2 separate regions of the Homo sapiens genome follow, and region 2 is linked to region 1. The links come from fine-mapping of genetic effects on gene expression. Tissue or cell type: whole blood. Region 1 holds a variant in brackets; the other region holds the start of a gene. All regions are shown on one strand. Distances are from middle to middle.

Region 1 (8,103 bases):
TCCCCTGTCCTCAGCCTGCGAAGTAGCTGGGATTACTAATGCATGCTACTGTGCCTGGCTAATTATTTTTATTTTCAGTTTTTGTAGAGACAGTGTCACACTATGTTGCCCAGGTTGATCTTGAACTCCTGGTCTCAAGTGATCCTCCTACATTGGCCTCCCACAGTGCTGGGATTCCAGGTGTGAGCCACTGAGTTTGGCCTTCCCTTCGTAAGATCCACATCACTTTCTCATGTTATCCCTTCTTATCCTGTGTTGTAATTATTCGTGTGAAGTCCCCTATCCTAAAATAGCTTGAAGTCTCTCTGAAGGCAGATAAAACATGAGTCCAGCTAAAGATCTCCTCACATGCATACCTTGTCTTGCACCAGCAGATGCTCAGCAAACAAATGAATAAAAGGATCAATAAATAGGCTTGATGAATTAAATTTTTTATCAGATTGCCTGTTGGTTTTGGCATTGCATAGGCACTCCCCAAGCTGTTTAAATTTCCTTTATTTACCAAATACTTGCTACTGTTTGTGAGAATAGTGGAAATAAGACAATTTTCCCCAACAGAACATTAACATTCAAGCAGAGGTTAAATGGCTCCTTTGGGAGTGGAGAATCTAGGAAGTCTAACGTGTAGTGACAACACTCAAAGAGAAACCCTTCTTGGATTCTGTATGTCAAACAGTTCCACGACTTGTTCAAGTTTAACTGTGGGACTTTTGAAGCCATTGTGACTATTTTGCTTCTGTTGGGTGACTGGAAAGACAGTATCTGCTACCTGGGAAGGGTTAATTGTGTTCTTATATTTTCAACTCTACTTTTTAAAAAGGTGTGGCTGCATTTTTCTCTTCTCTTTTCTCCCCATTGTCTCCCCTACTCTTCCTCACTCTTTTTCTATCTCCCCCTCTCTAGTTCCTTCCCTGATTCCTTCTCTTCAGTCTTTCATTTTCTTCCTCTGTATCTCCTTCTTGCCTCTCCCACTGCACCCTTTCCTTCCTTTGCTTCCCCTACACCTTCTCCCTCTCATGTGATTTATGTTAAAATGTACGACATCAAAGAGTTACCTACATGAATCTGAACCCTGGGTTTAGATCTACCTAAGGTAGGTGGCATAAATACCTGAGAGGTGGGGAGGAGAGAAGCAGCTCTAGAAAATGCTTTCATTCAGAAGGTGTGGCACAGAAATCATGGTGGCATGTGGCATGGTGGCAAGTGACAAGAGGCATCCACGCAAAAGCTGGCATCCAGGGGACCTAACAAGAGATCATGGGCTGCCCCAAGGTTGCCTGAAACATTGTGATGGGATACTAACCTGAATACAAAGCATGACTGCAGATCTGGAAGGAATTGGATTCAAGAAGGAATTTGTAAGTGGGTAGCAGAACCTAAGCCATCTTTCTAGGGTTTACTATAAACCTAGAGGCAGGTTGAGGATTAACAAGAGCAAGCAGTGCTTTGAGCCTTGCAGGCCTGCTTCCTAGAAAAAGTATTCTGGCAGAGCATCTTACTGGTTATAAGGGAATAGGGCCCAAGAAGAGAAAGTTTCCCAAGAGGAAATATGTAAAAGGGCTTAGTTATAGGAAGAAAGGAAAAATCTGATTCCCAAAACTGAAGCAGTCCATGGGCAGAGCAAGATGAACCTGAGCTACTGACCTAAGCTTCCTTAAAATAACCCCAAATGAAACATGGTTGGTTCTGGAAACTGGAATTGGGGGTAGCCTCCAAATAAGGGTCCAGTAGCTCTGGGTCATTTCATCGTCAACTGGAAATAGATGCAGCAGTCTCAGTGGTCATGACTCTAACATCAGATCAGCCTGAGCTCAAGTACCAAGTACAGCTCTTACAAGATGAGAGAGACCTTGGGAAAGTAACATAACCTCTCTTTGCCTCAGTTTTCTCATCTGTAAAGTGGGGGGAAACAGTACCAATGTCATGGGGCTATCATGAGAATTAAATGAATCCTTATTAATAAAAGGTTTAGAATAAGGGCTGGGCGCGGTGGCTCACACCTGTAATCCCAGCACTTTGGGAGGCTAAGGTGGGCAGATCACAAGTTCAGGAGTTTGAGGACCAGCCTGACCAACATGGTGAAACCCCGTCTCTACTAAAAATACAAAAATTAGCGTGCGTGGTGGCACGCACCTGTAATCCCAGCTACTCAGGAGCTGAGGCAGGAGAATTGCTTGAACCTGGGAGGCAGAGATTGCAGTGAGCCGAGATCTTGCCACTGCACTCCAGCCTGGGTGACAGAGCAAGACTCCACCTCAAAAAAAAAAAAAAAAAGCTAACTTTTCTCCAGAGTCATGTATTTTCAACAAAAGGGGTTTAAAGTTTTTCTATTTTCCCAAATCAAGTGAATTTCAGCTCAATAAAATCATTCATTTTTCAGGGAAACTGATTCACTTTTCATTTACTGAGTATAGACCACCTGAATTGGGTCCCAAACTAACTCCTCATAATAAAAACTGAACATGGGAGTTGCTCTGCTGTGTGGCAAACACACCATCATTCTTGTAATTGCCTTCACTTGAAAACTCAGCCACATATTTATCTCCCCTTTCTCTAACCCCAGTATCTCAGAAAGTCATATAGCATCATGGTTAAGAGAGCAGACTCAGGAACCAGACATAACTGGGCTTAAATGTTAACTTTATCCCCTTTTTAAAGCTTGGTAGAGCTGCCTATCTTTTCTTTCTGAGCTTCAGTTTTCTCATTTGCAAGTAAGTGAGGATAGTAATACCCATGTCATAGAGTTATTGTGAGGATTGGATGTGATTTTGCATGGAAAGGGCTTAGCAAAGTACCTACTTATGGAAATGTTTAATGCATTTCAGTCAAAAATCATGTATCATAATCCAGTTGAATCCATTTTTCAAATGTCTCCTAACTTTGTCCCTTCTGCTCCATCCTTCCAATACTATTGTGTATCTCTGTCGGGAGTATATGTGTGTATCTTCCTTACAAGACGGTAAACTCCTTGTGTGTATATACAGTTTGGTTTATCTTCACTTCCCATTCCATTTTATCTTGAATGCTGCTGGGCTTACAACAGTATTCAACAAACATTGATTGAAAAGACATTCTGCAGAACCTGATTGTCCCCTCTGTTCCTTGATTGCAGAACTTGGTACAATTGGTAGAAGTATTAAGACTAAAAACTTCAAGGGTCTTGAGTGCTGTAATAATGCCTTGTGGTCATTTGATGCTTAGAAAACAGCTTGGTAACTTAGAGTCAATTTAAACCATCCACACAAGAACCTCAAGCTAATATTCAGCCTATTATGTGGGAGTCTAAATGGCCTTTCTATAGAAAAATCTGACTAGCTTCTGCATTGGAGACTGAATGGCATGCTTCTTAGACAATAGACAACAATGGTTGTCTGTGGGGGACAGAAGAGGGTAAGGGTCTGGGAGCTGGAAAGAAACTGATGAAGCCACAAAAGAAAGCTCTGAACTTCACATTTATTAATGCATGTCTTTGTGTCATTACTTATCAGCAATATTTGTATTTTTAAACACAGTACCAATTAAGACTGGCAGTTAGTGGACAACTGATGTAAAGCACCAGATGTGGTTCCCCTATGTCTCATTGATCTTGCTATTTGATCCCTTTTTTCCAGTGTTGCAAGTAATTTGGCAACATTATTGACAATGTAAACTGATCAAACTTCTAT[G/A]ACAGACATCTTGGGAAGGGAAGAAAATGATAGGGCATTGTGGTTCAAACTGATACTTTTCTAAAAAAGATAACAGTTTTTAGTGACCAGGAATGTGCAGTCTATGAAACAAGCCATTACTGCCTATGAGGCAGGGTTCGTGACAGCACTATATGTAGAAATAAAGGAGGCATCTTGTATAGATGGCTTTATTCATGAAAACATAAAAGAATGTTCTGTTAAAAATCAATGTACTTTTTAGATTTCCAGTGCTCAAAATTCTACTATTATAGTCAATCCTTATAGTCTTTCTTACCAGAAACTAACCAACTAATCAGCAACTTGGTAGGGTTTTTGAAAACAAAATGAAGTCCTTTGTTACTTGGGAAAGAACAGAAAGGAGGAGGTATGAGAAAGGGGTTATAGATGTTAGAAGATGGTGAAAGATGGGGTGATTTCAGTTTAGGGTCAACAGCCTCCAGTCAGTGAATGGGAGATGAAGGTGGGAAGTCAAGTCTGTTAATTCAGCCATCACCAAAACTGACTGATGGATCCTGCCTATTGTCCGCTGGCTTCATGTGCGTTTTCATCCTTTACTTCTAAGAAGACTGTAAAATATTTTCCATATTGCTCTTCTCCAGTATTCTACACTTCTGCTTCCTCTACTTCAGCTTCAGCTATTCTTTTAATGTTCAGTCTCATCATGCCAATCTTCCTTCTGCTTTACAATCTTTCATGGGACCTCATTTTACCCTAAAATTAACTCTCCATTCTTTAAACTGGCCTGTCCTCTCCCCGAAGCCTCATCCTTCCAGTGTTCTCTCCACTACCCGCTGTATATAAAAGAATGCCATGTTCTTCCAAAGTTCTCTGTCTTGGCTAATGCTCCTCTCTCCATTAGAAATTTTCTTCCTTGCCTTTTCTGCTAGGTGGCCTCCCAGGCATCCTTCAAGGCTCAGGTTAAAGTCGACCTTTCAATAATGCTTTGTTGGACTCACCTAGCCAGAATTAATCACTCCTGACCCTGTGACTCGGTAGAACCTAGTGTATACTCTATGACTCTCTCATTGAATGAATGATGATTGCCTGGCTCTTCATTAATATTAGCTTGTGAGGGCAGTGACTGTGTGTTGTGGGGGCAATGTTATGTTTTTCAGGAGGTCGTTTTATTTCTCTTCTGGGCACAAAGAAAGGCTATATTTCCCAATTGCAATATGTCTAGTTGTGGCTTTGAAGCAAACTTTGGCAAAAGTGATATATACCACTTCCAACTGGCTGCTAACAGATAATGCATAATCTCTATTGTTTTTCTCTTGCCAACCACTCAGCCTTTTTGAGGATTTCAATAAACAATTGGATAGAAAGATCTTGAGTCTGAGTCACCGCCTGTAGGAAAGCTACTCTGCTAGCACATCAGCACAAGATTTCTCAAGAGAAAAATGAACTGTCACTGTCTTAGACACTAGAGTTGGGGATATTATTATAGCAATTAGCCTTACTTACTCTAATATGGTATCTCATTTCCCTTTATGATGCTTTTTTTCTCATTGTGATTTCCAGTCAACCACTCCTCCTTGTCTACCTATGTCAGTTCTGACTTTACTTTTCTCCCATCTAGCATGGATCCTTTGGTCAATCATTTAATGACATTATTGCCATCACCCTAGAATCTTTTTCTGATGTTTTATTTTATTAGCACAAGTTGTTTTTATAACAATAATAGCAGTAGTCATTGTTGCAGCCCATTAGGAGCACGTAATACTTTGCAGATTATGTATCTTGGCATTTATTGTCTAAGTTTGATTTTGGCCTCTCATGGTTTCCATCTTACCTCAAAGTGCTTCCTGCCTGCTATCTCCACTCCTGAATCCAAGCTGATACCACTAGAGAAGTCACAGAGATCTGACTTTTGGCTTCAATACAAATTAAGGGTATTTCTTCATTGCCATTGAGCAAACATCTTAGTCATCTCTTGTACTCCTTGTTTAAATCTTCACGACTTTTTAAATCAAACTTTTTCTACTCCCCTTAGAACTCCACCCATTTCCAATGTTAAACCCTCCCCTGTGTACCTGATATGAGAAACGCAGAATACAGGATTACTAAACTGTTGTGTACAGTAGCCATCAATTGTACCAAGCTTGTATGAGGCAGGCACATAGCAGTCAAATAAGCAAAAGGCCAGCTATATGGATTTTTTTGTGATCATTCTTCCCAAAGAATTTTCTTCATATTTCTAGTCCAACAAACTATTCTGGATGAAAAACATTTTCTGGAGTCAAATAAGTGTGGAAACTACTTCACATAATATCCTCATTATTAATCTGCTCCCTTAACTGCAAACATCTTATGACCATTGGTTGTGGCCAGCAAAGAATGTGTTTTGCTAGTTTAAAGATGAGGTCATTTTTAAAATGGTGTCACCCTGGCTTTCCTAGGCTCCTGCTTCCCTAGGAGAATGAAAATGTTAACTCCATGCCTCTCCAGCACTCCATTTTGGAAGCATATAACTTGTTTCCTAGTCCATAGATCCATAGATGTACAGGAATTTTACCCAAAGATGGGTCATATCCAGAGTCTCACCTATACCTCACTTAGATGGCATTTGGGACCATTTGAGTTGATGACATATGAGATTTTGCCCTTGGGTTGATGCTGGAATGGGTTAAGCCTTTTAGGACTGTTGGATGAAGCGAATTCCTAGTCTTTCTGCAAATGGCTTTGTATCACCAAGAATTCCTTCAATAAAGGAAGCTATGTCACTTTACCATCTCAGCACTTCCCGAAAGTTTTGTTTACAAAACTTTTATATAATATACTTGTGAAGATTTAATGGAAGAATTCAGTCTAATTCTGCTTTCATCTGTGTAAAGTTATCTTTCTCTGGAGATAGGCAAACAATATTTTCTCCTTTGCTGATGTCAGACCAGGGCTAAGATACACAGGAAGATTGCAGGTACAGTAACTTACCCCAGGGGGAGGAAAAGGGTATTTACCAAACTTGTATGCCTCTTTTTCATTTAATAGTGATCCCAAGAAAAATGTTAGTATTCTTTCTTTTACACATAAGGAACCATATATAGGTAGTAAGAATACGATTCAGGATTCCAAAATCCATGATCTTTTCATGTCTTGACTCAGCTGGCATTGAGCTGGGAGTACAGAGATGGGTGCATGTCACTATGAGAGTGTTTAGACTCCTTCTAGCTTAATGGTGGATGGTTCTTAATTTCATTATGTAAGAATTGACAGTCTCCAGAACCATAAATGTCACCTTAATAATAACTATTGGAGCCTATTAAGTCTAGAAATTTACTTTTTCATAGTTACCACAAGAATGGGATGCAGAAGAATATGACTGTTACTCAATGGCAATATGAAAATCAATAACCCATTACCTCTGTCAGGCATATCCCCAGACTGCGCCACCTTTGTGAAGGAAAGACTGATGAGTTACCACTTGAGTATGAGTCAGAACCTACATAGATTTACTGAAAGTATAACAAGTTAGATATGCCCATGGATGCTGGGCCAGGTGGCAAATGATGATAAGTTCTGGATCTTTTTGCCTTCAAGGATATCTTTTATTCTTCTCACATGGGCTCTTACTTTGCTACCAAACTGTTAGTTAAGTACTAATTATGTTCCCCACTTGTATTTATCAGTAGCGTGTAGAACTGCCAATCAGAACTTGGGGTCAGCATCTGCCTAGTCGGTATAATTGCATCAATTTGATACAACTCTAATCAAAACGAAAGAAACTTTTGATACTTCAGATGGCTTTTGCCTCCTTATTACAGGTAAATACATAGCTCCTTTAAACATGTATAAAATAGTTTGGGGTTATAGTGAGAGTGGATTGAAGGATATTTTTAAAAACATTTTCTTCATATATTTTGCATAGTCTCACTGGTGTGATTATCTTACATTATTTGTGTAATCAGAAGAATTAATAAAGTAGAAAATAATTTTAAAACACAATTGCCTGAGAACCTGTATTACTGCTTTCATGGTCTTATCAAGTTCTAAAAGGTAGGAAACTAACCTAGACATCTTTGTAAGAACACTTCTGTCTCAAAAAATTCAAGAAAAATCTTATGGCCTTCTGTTTTGTTTTGTTTACAGGGAGAAATAATTGCTCTCTTTCCAGTATGATTTCCATTAGCTGTAGTAACAATTCTGCAGGGCTTTTTAATACTCCTGGTAATGAGGCATCCTTGGGTCCCTGCATTCGGTTCATTCAATATCTTGCTGGGAAGGCAAAGTCGTAAAAAAATTAAAAAAAAAAAAGAAAAACCTCTTCATTCTCACATCACAAATCACAGCCAGAAGCAAAAAAGGAAAAAATAAAAACCCTAAATACTCCATATCCTGCTACCTAAGCATTTAAGTAATTAGTTTCCTGAAGTTTGGCCACCAGACTAGTAAGCAGCTACAAAGGTCTTAGTGTTTACTTTAC
Region 2 (5,000 bases), 180 kb before region 1:
CCCCCATGCAAAGGACCAGGCTGACCTGAACAATTGGGTATATCAAAGGGCACACATGAAGAAGAGGCAGAAGGAAATCATGAAGGCATGCAATGCGCCGGATCAAGCTACCTTTTGGGAAAAACAGAGCATTTGAGGTGTCAGGGGTAAGGGGACTCTCTGAAGGTACACTCTGAAGATACAGAATAAGTAGAGTGGACTTGGGATCCTAAACCCAGCGGAAAGTGAAGAGAAAGGGTAGAGAAATGATTTATGCATGGGTGGAGCAAGAGAGCAGAACTTGAAGCCAGGCCCTGTATTGGCACTAATTTGCTGTGTGACCTTAGGCAAGAGACCTTATTCCTCTGGGTCTCAGTTTTCTTTTCTCTTTTTTTTTTTTTTTTTTTTGAGACGGAGTTATGCTCTTGTCACTCAGGCTGGAGCGCAATGGCATGACCTCGGCTAACTGCAACCTCTGCCTCCTGGGTTCAGGCAATTCCCCTGCCCTGGCCTCCCAAGTAGCTGGGATTACAGGCATGCGCCATCATGCCTGGCTGACTTTGTAATTTTTAAAGTAGAGATGGGGTTTCATCATGTTGGTCAGGTGGTCTCAAACTCCTGACCTCAAGTGATCTACCCTCCTTGGCCTCCCGAAGTGCTGAGATCACAGGCGTGAGCCACGGTGCCCAGCCTCAGTTTTCTCGTGTATAAAAATTAAAGGGAAAAGGGATAAGTTGATTTCTAAGGGTTTTCCCAACTCTAACATCCTGTGGATCCAATTACAAGTTCTTAGAGCTTCCTATATCATGTGTATAGACACAGGTATCCAGGAAGGGAAGGAAAGAGAGAGGGTGTCTCTGAGTCGCTGACAGGGCACATGGAAGCCTAGAAAACCCAGGAAGACTGAGGCTGATCCTGTCTCAGACACAGAAGCTGTAGCGGGTGTTCTAAAGACCTAAGTAAGCATCCTGCTTGTCCTATCTCCCCTATTTGAATTTAAGCCCCAGGAGGACAAAGCTTACTCTCTGGAATCTCCGCGTTTTAGACTTACAAGTGTCTTTAAAGGTCATCTCATCTCAATCCCTTACCCCAAAATGGGAATTCTCTGTATCCTACCACTGAAAGACGGCCCCCACACCTGTGCGTATTTGCCCTTCCACATAATTTACAGAGTGGAGGGCAGAGTTTGATAATCCCTTCATGCAGCTGACCTCCTGCCTCAGGACCCAGGAAATCTCCCTACGGTTCCTCTGACACTGGCTCCAGTGTGCCAGCCTGGAACCTGAAATGCCATTCTCAGCTTCTCTTCAGGGAGTGAGGTGGGCGGACACATGGCAGGTTTTGGAGTCACACAGACCCGGGTTCAAGTCTCACTTCCACTGCTCGTTAACTGAGGGGATTTGGACAAAGTACCCCAGCTTTCTGTGCAGTTAACCTGCAAAACTCCAAGAATAATCCTTCGCGGGACTGGTGAGGATACATGGGGTGTAGGAGATGAGCATTAAACACGTGCTCCCCTACGCTGCTCCTAACCTCCCTGTCTCCACCTGGGTGTGAGCATCTGTGGGGGCAGGAATTGTTTCTTAGCTACAGGATACTCTTTTCCCAGTGCCAAAAACAGTGCTTTTGTGTCCGGAATTGGTGGGTTCTTGGTCTCACTGACTTCAAAAATGAAGCCACCGACCCTCATGGTGAGTGTTACAGCTCATAAAGGCACAGTGCCCAGAGTTTGTTCCTTCTGATGTTCGGATGTGTTCTGAGTTTCTTCCTTCTGGTGGGTTTATTGTCTTGCTGGCTCAAGAGTGAAGCTGCAGACCTTCCGGGTGAGTGTTAACAGCTGATAAAGGCAGAGCAGACCCAAACACTGCGCAGCAGCAAGATTCATTGCAAAAACCAAAAGAACAAATCTTCCACCACGTGGAAGGGGACCCGAGCCGGTTGTCAGTGCTGGCTGGGGCAGCCTGCTTTTATTCTCTTATCTGGCCCCACCCACATCCTGCAGATTGGTCCATTTTACAGAGAGCCAATTGGTCTGTTTTACAGAGAGCTGATTGGTCCGTTTTGACAGGGTGCTGATTGGTGCATCCACAAACCCTGAGCTAGACACAGGGTGCTGATTGGTGCATTTACAAACCTTGAGCTAGATACAGAGTGCCCATTGGTGTATTCACAATCCCTTAGCTAGACATAAAGGTTCTCCAAGTCCCCACTAGACTCAGGAGCCCAGCTGGCTTCACCCAGTGGATCCCGCCCCGGGGGCAGCAGGTGGAGCTGCCTGCCAGTCCTGCGTGTGTGCCCGCACTTCTCTGCCCTTGGGCGGTCGATGGGACCAGGCACCATGGAGCAGGGGGTGGCACTCGTCGGGGAGGCTTGGGCCATGCAGGAGCCCAGGGTGGGGAGACTCAGGCATGGCGGGCTGCAGGTCCCGAGCCCTGCCCCACAGAGAGGCAGCTAAGGCCCAGCGAGAAATCGAGCTCAGTGCCGGTGGGCCGGCACTGCTGGGGGACCTGGCGCACCCTCCGCAGCTGCTGGCCCAGGTGCTAAGCACTTCACTGCCCAGGGCTGGGGGCCTGCCGGCCGCTCCGAGTGCAGGGCCCGCCAAGCCCACGCCCACCCAGAACTCTAGCTGGCCTGCAAGCCCTGCATGCAGCCCCGGTTCCTGCCCGTGCCTCTCCCTCCACATCTCCCAGCAGGCTGAGGGAGCCGGTTCTGGCTTTGGCCTACCCAGGAAGGGGCTCCCACAGTGCAGTGGCTGGCTGAAGGGCTCCTCCAGCGCGGCCAGAGTGGGCACCGAGGCCGAGGAGGCTCCGAGAGCGAGCGAGGGCTGCGAGGGCTACCAGCATGCTGTCACCTCTCACTTTGCCTATTATAAAAAATGAGAGAGAGAAAATAAAAGCGAATTTATATGTGACCCCAGAATCTAGAACAGAGCTCTTTATCTCTCTCTCAGCAAGGCCTATTAACTAACACAGTTTTGCTGCTGTCTGTTTTCAGAACAAAGACTTGTTCTGTGTACTCAGACAGTCTAAAATGAAGGTTGAAAAAAACAGCTCATGTCCATACACAGAAACAGAAACTGAACCGAACACCGAAACTGAAACTGTTTGTCTCTTCCTGAGAAACGAGCAAACCTGAAAGCTACTCTCTCAGCTTCAGAGGGAAAAAATGGTTGTAGATTTCTGGACTTGGGAGCAGACATTTCAAGAACTAATCCAAGAGGCAAAACCCCGGGCCACATGGACGCTGAAGTTGGATGGCAACCTTCAGCTAGACTGCCTGGCTCAAGGGTGGAAGCAATACCAACAGAGAGCATTTGGCTGGTGAGTGTGGGTTTCCCAGGCAATAGCTCTTCTGAGAAGAGAGGCTCAGGCTCAGCTTAGCATGATTTATTCCTCTGAGAGCTTGTTGAAGGAGTAAATGTCACCAGGGCCTCCATCCTATTGTGGTCATAGTACTCTTTAGGGTCGACATGATAAGACGACTCCAAACCTCCATTTTGTTTAACTGCTGGAAGTTTCTTCTTTTACTAGGTTTCCCTCCGTAAATATTTCTGGAAAACCCTGGAGAAGGCTCCCTATTCCATAAATTTTCCCTTCTAGTTTCTCACCACGTCATTTGTTCCAGACTACCTCTAGAGTCTTTTGCAGTCTCCCCAGCAGTCCTGACCAGCTTCCCCCAGCTGCACCAGCTCTCCAAGCCTTGGCACTGTTCAGTACAAGCCTGGGACGGAGCCTTTTTTTTTTTTTTAAATATCTTAAGAATTGGCTAAGATCAAGCAGTTACTCTGAACATTGCTTTACTGAAGGCCTGGGGATAATAGTATAGAATGATGTTGCAAAAACTAAATCTAAAACCCAGTTCATGGAGTCACCAAGTAATACTCCTCCCTTACTCACCACTTCCCTCTTTAACCCCCAGCAAGCCTCCAGGTTGCAGGAACCAGTTTCCTTGACCATGTTAGGAGGGTGAGAATTGCTGACCTGGATAATCAAATTTATTTTTAAATGACACACAGGACCTTCGGTATAGTTTTCATCTGACCTATTACTCAGCTTGCCTGCCTGCCCCATCCTGCCTCAGGTATGGCCTACTCCATTCCTTATGGACTATTAGCTATGCCATGCATCTTCAGACTTCCACACTCTTGTTCATGGAGTTCTGCTTGTTCAGCAGACCCTCCCCTCACCCCTCCCTGCTCATCCTTCAAGGCCCACTCTAGTGCCTCCTCCTCCTAAAAGCATTCTCTGGTTCTCCTAGGCAGAGTAAGTATTCCTTCGTATACATTCCCATAAGATAATGGGATAAGATAAAATATATATGTATATGTATACATAAATGATATATAATTATATATACATATGTACTATGTATTTCAGAATAATAAATTTATAAATAATATATGTATTATTATATATTGTATCAAATACAGTATATGCTTATTTTTAGCTGCAGAATCTGTTGTTTAAATAAAGCCTCCTAAACGTCTCCAGAACAGTTCTCAAGTCACTTGTCAGAGCCCGTATAGCAGTCATGTTGCTCTGCTTTCTAATCCAGGGAAATGTGTAAATATTTCTGTCCACACCAGCCAGAGCTTTTTGAGGGACTCATGATGTCTTACAACGTTTTGGCACTCCTCCAAACAGAAAGAAGGTGTTTCTCCTGTTGGGATGATTTGATTTGATTGTCATTTCGAGATCGGAAAAGCAACCTACCAGTGTACTTTTGGAAAATATCAATCAGCTTTTGAAAAGCATTTTGTAGTTTACAAAGTGTTTTCACATACATCGTCTCTTTTGATGCTGCCAATATAACCCTTGAATTTTTTTTTTATGGATTCAAACAATGAGGGTTATAGAAGGGAAGGGCTTTGCCCAAGGTCTTCCTGATGTAAACTGGATCTTCAACCCAGGTATGAGGGATGCAGTCTGTTTCTCCAGGTGTGAGAGATTAGCTACACTACTCACCAGAGGCAACGTGTTACAGCAGGTAAATGAGTTGAATTTCAGATGGCCTGAGATTAG

Evidence for each region. PIP is the estimated chance that this variant, and not a neighbour inherited with it, causes the effect.
Region 2: it holds the start of RTP4, and the variant in region 1 is fine-mapped to the expression of RTP4 in whole blood (INTERVAL, PIP 0.96).

Annotation. Positions count from the first base shown.
Region 1 is chr3:187,545,623-187,553,725 of GRCh38, forward strand. No RefSeq gene overlaps it. Among named protein-coding and RNA genes, the nearest start is that of LINC02041, 100 kb to the left of the region's middle. The variant G/A (reference allele first, on the strand shown) is at 3,666.
Region 2 is chr3:187,365,298-187,370,297 of GRCh38, forward strand. RTP4 (receptor transporter protein 4) reads left to right here and starts at 3,088. Exons shown (of 2, transcript NM_022147.3): 1 at 3,088-3,299. The coding sequence starts at 3,145. RefSeq lists an enhancer at 2,949-3,298.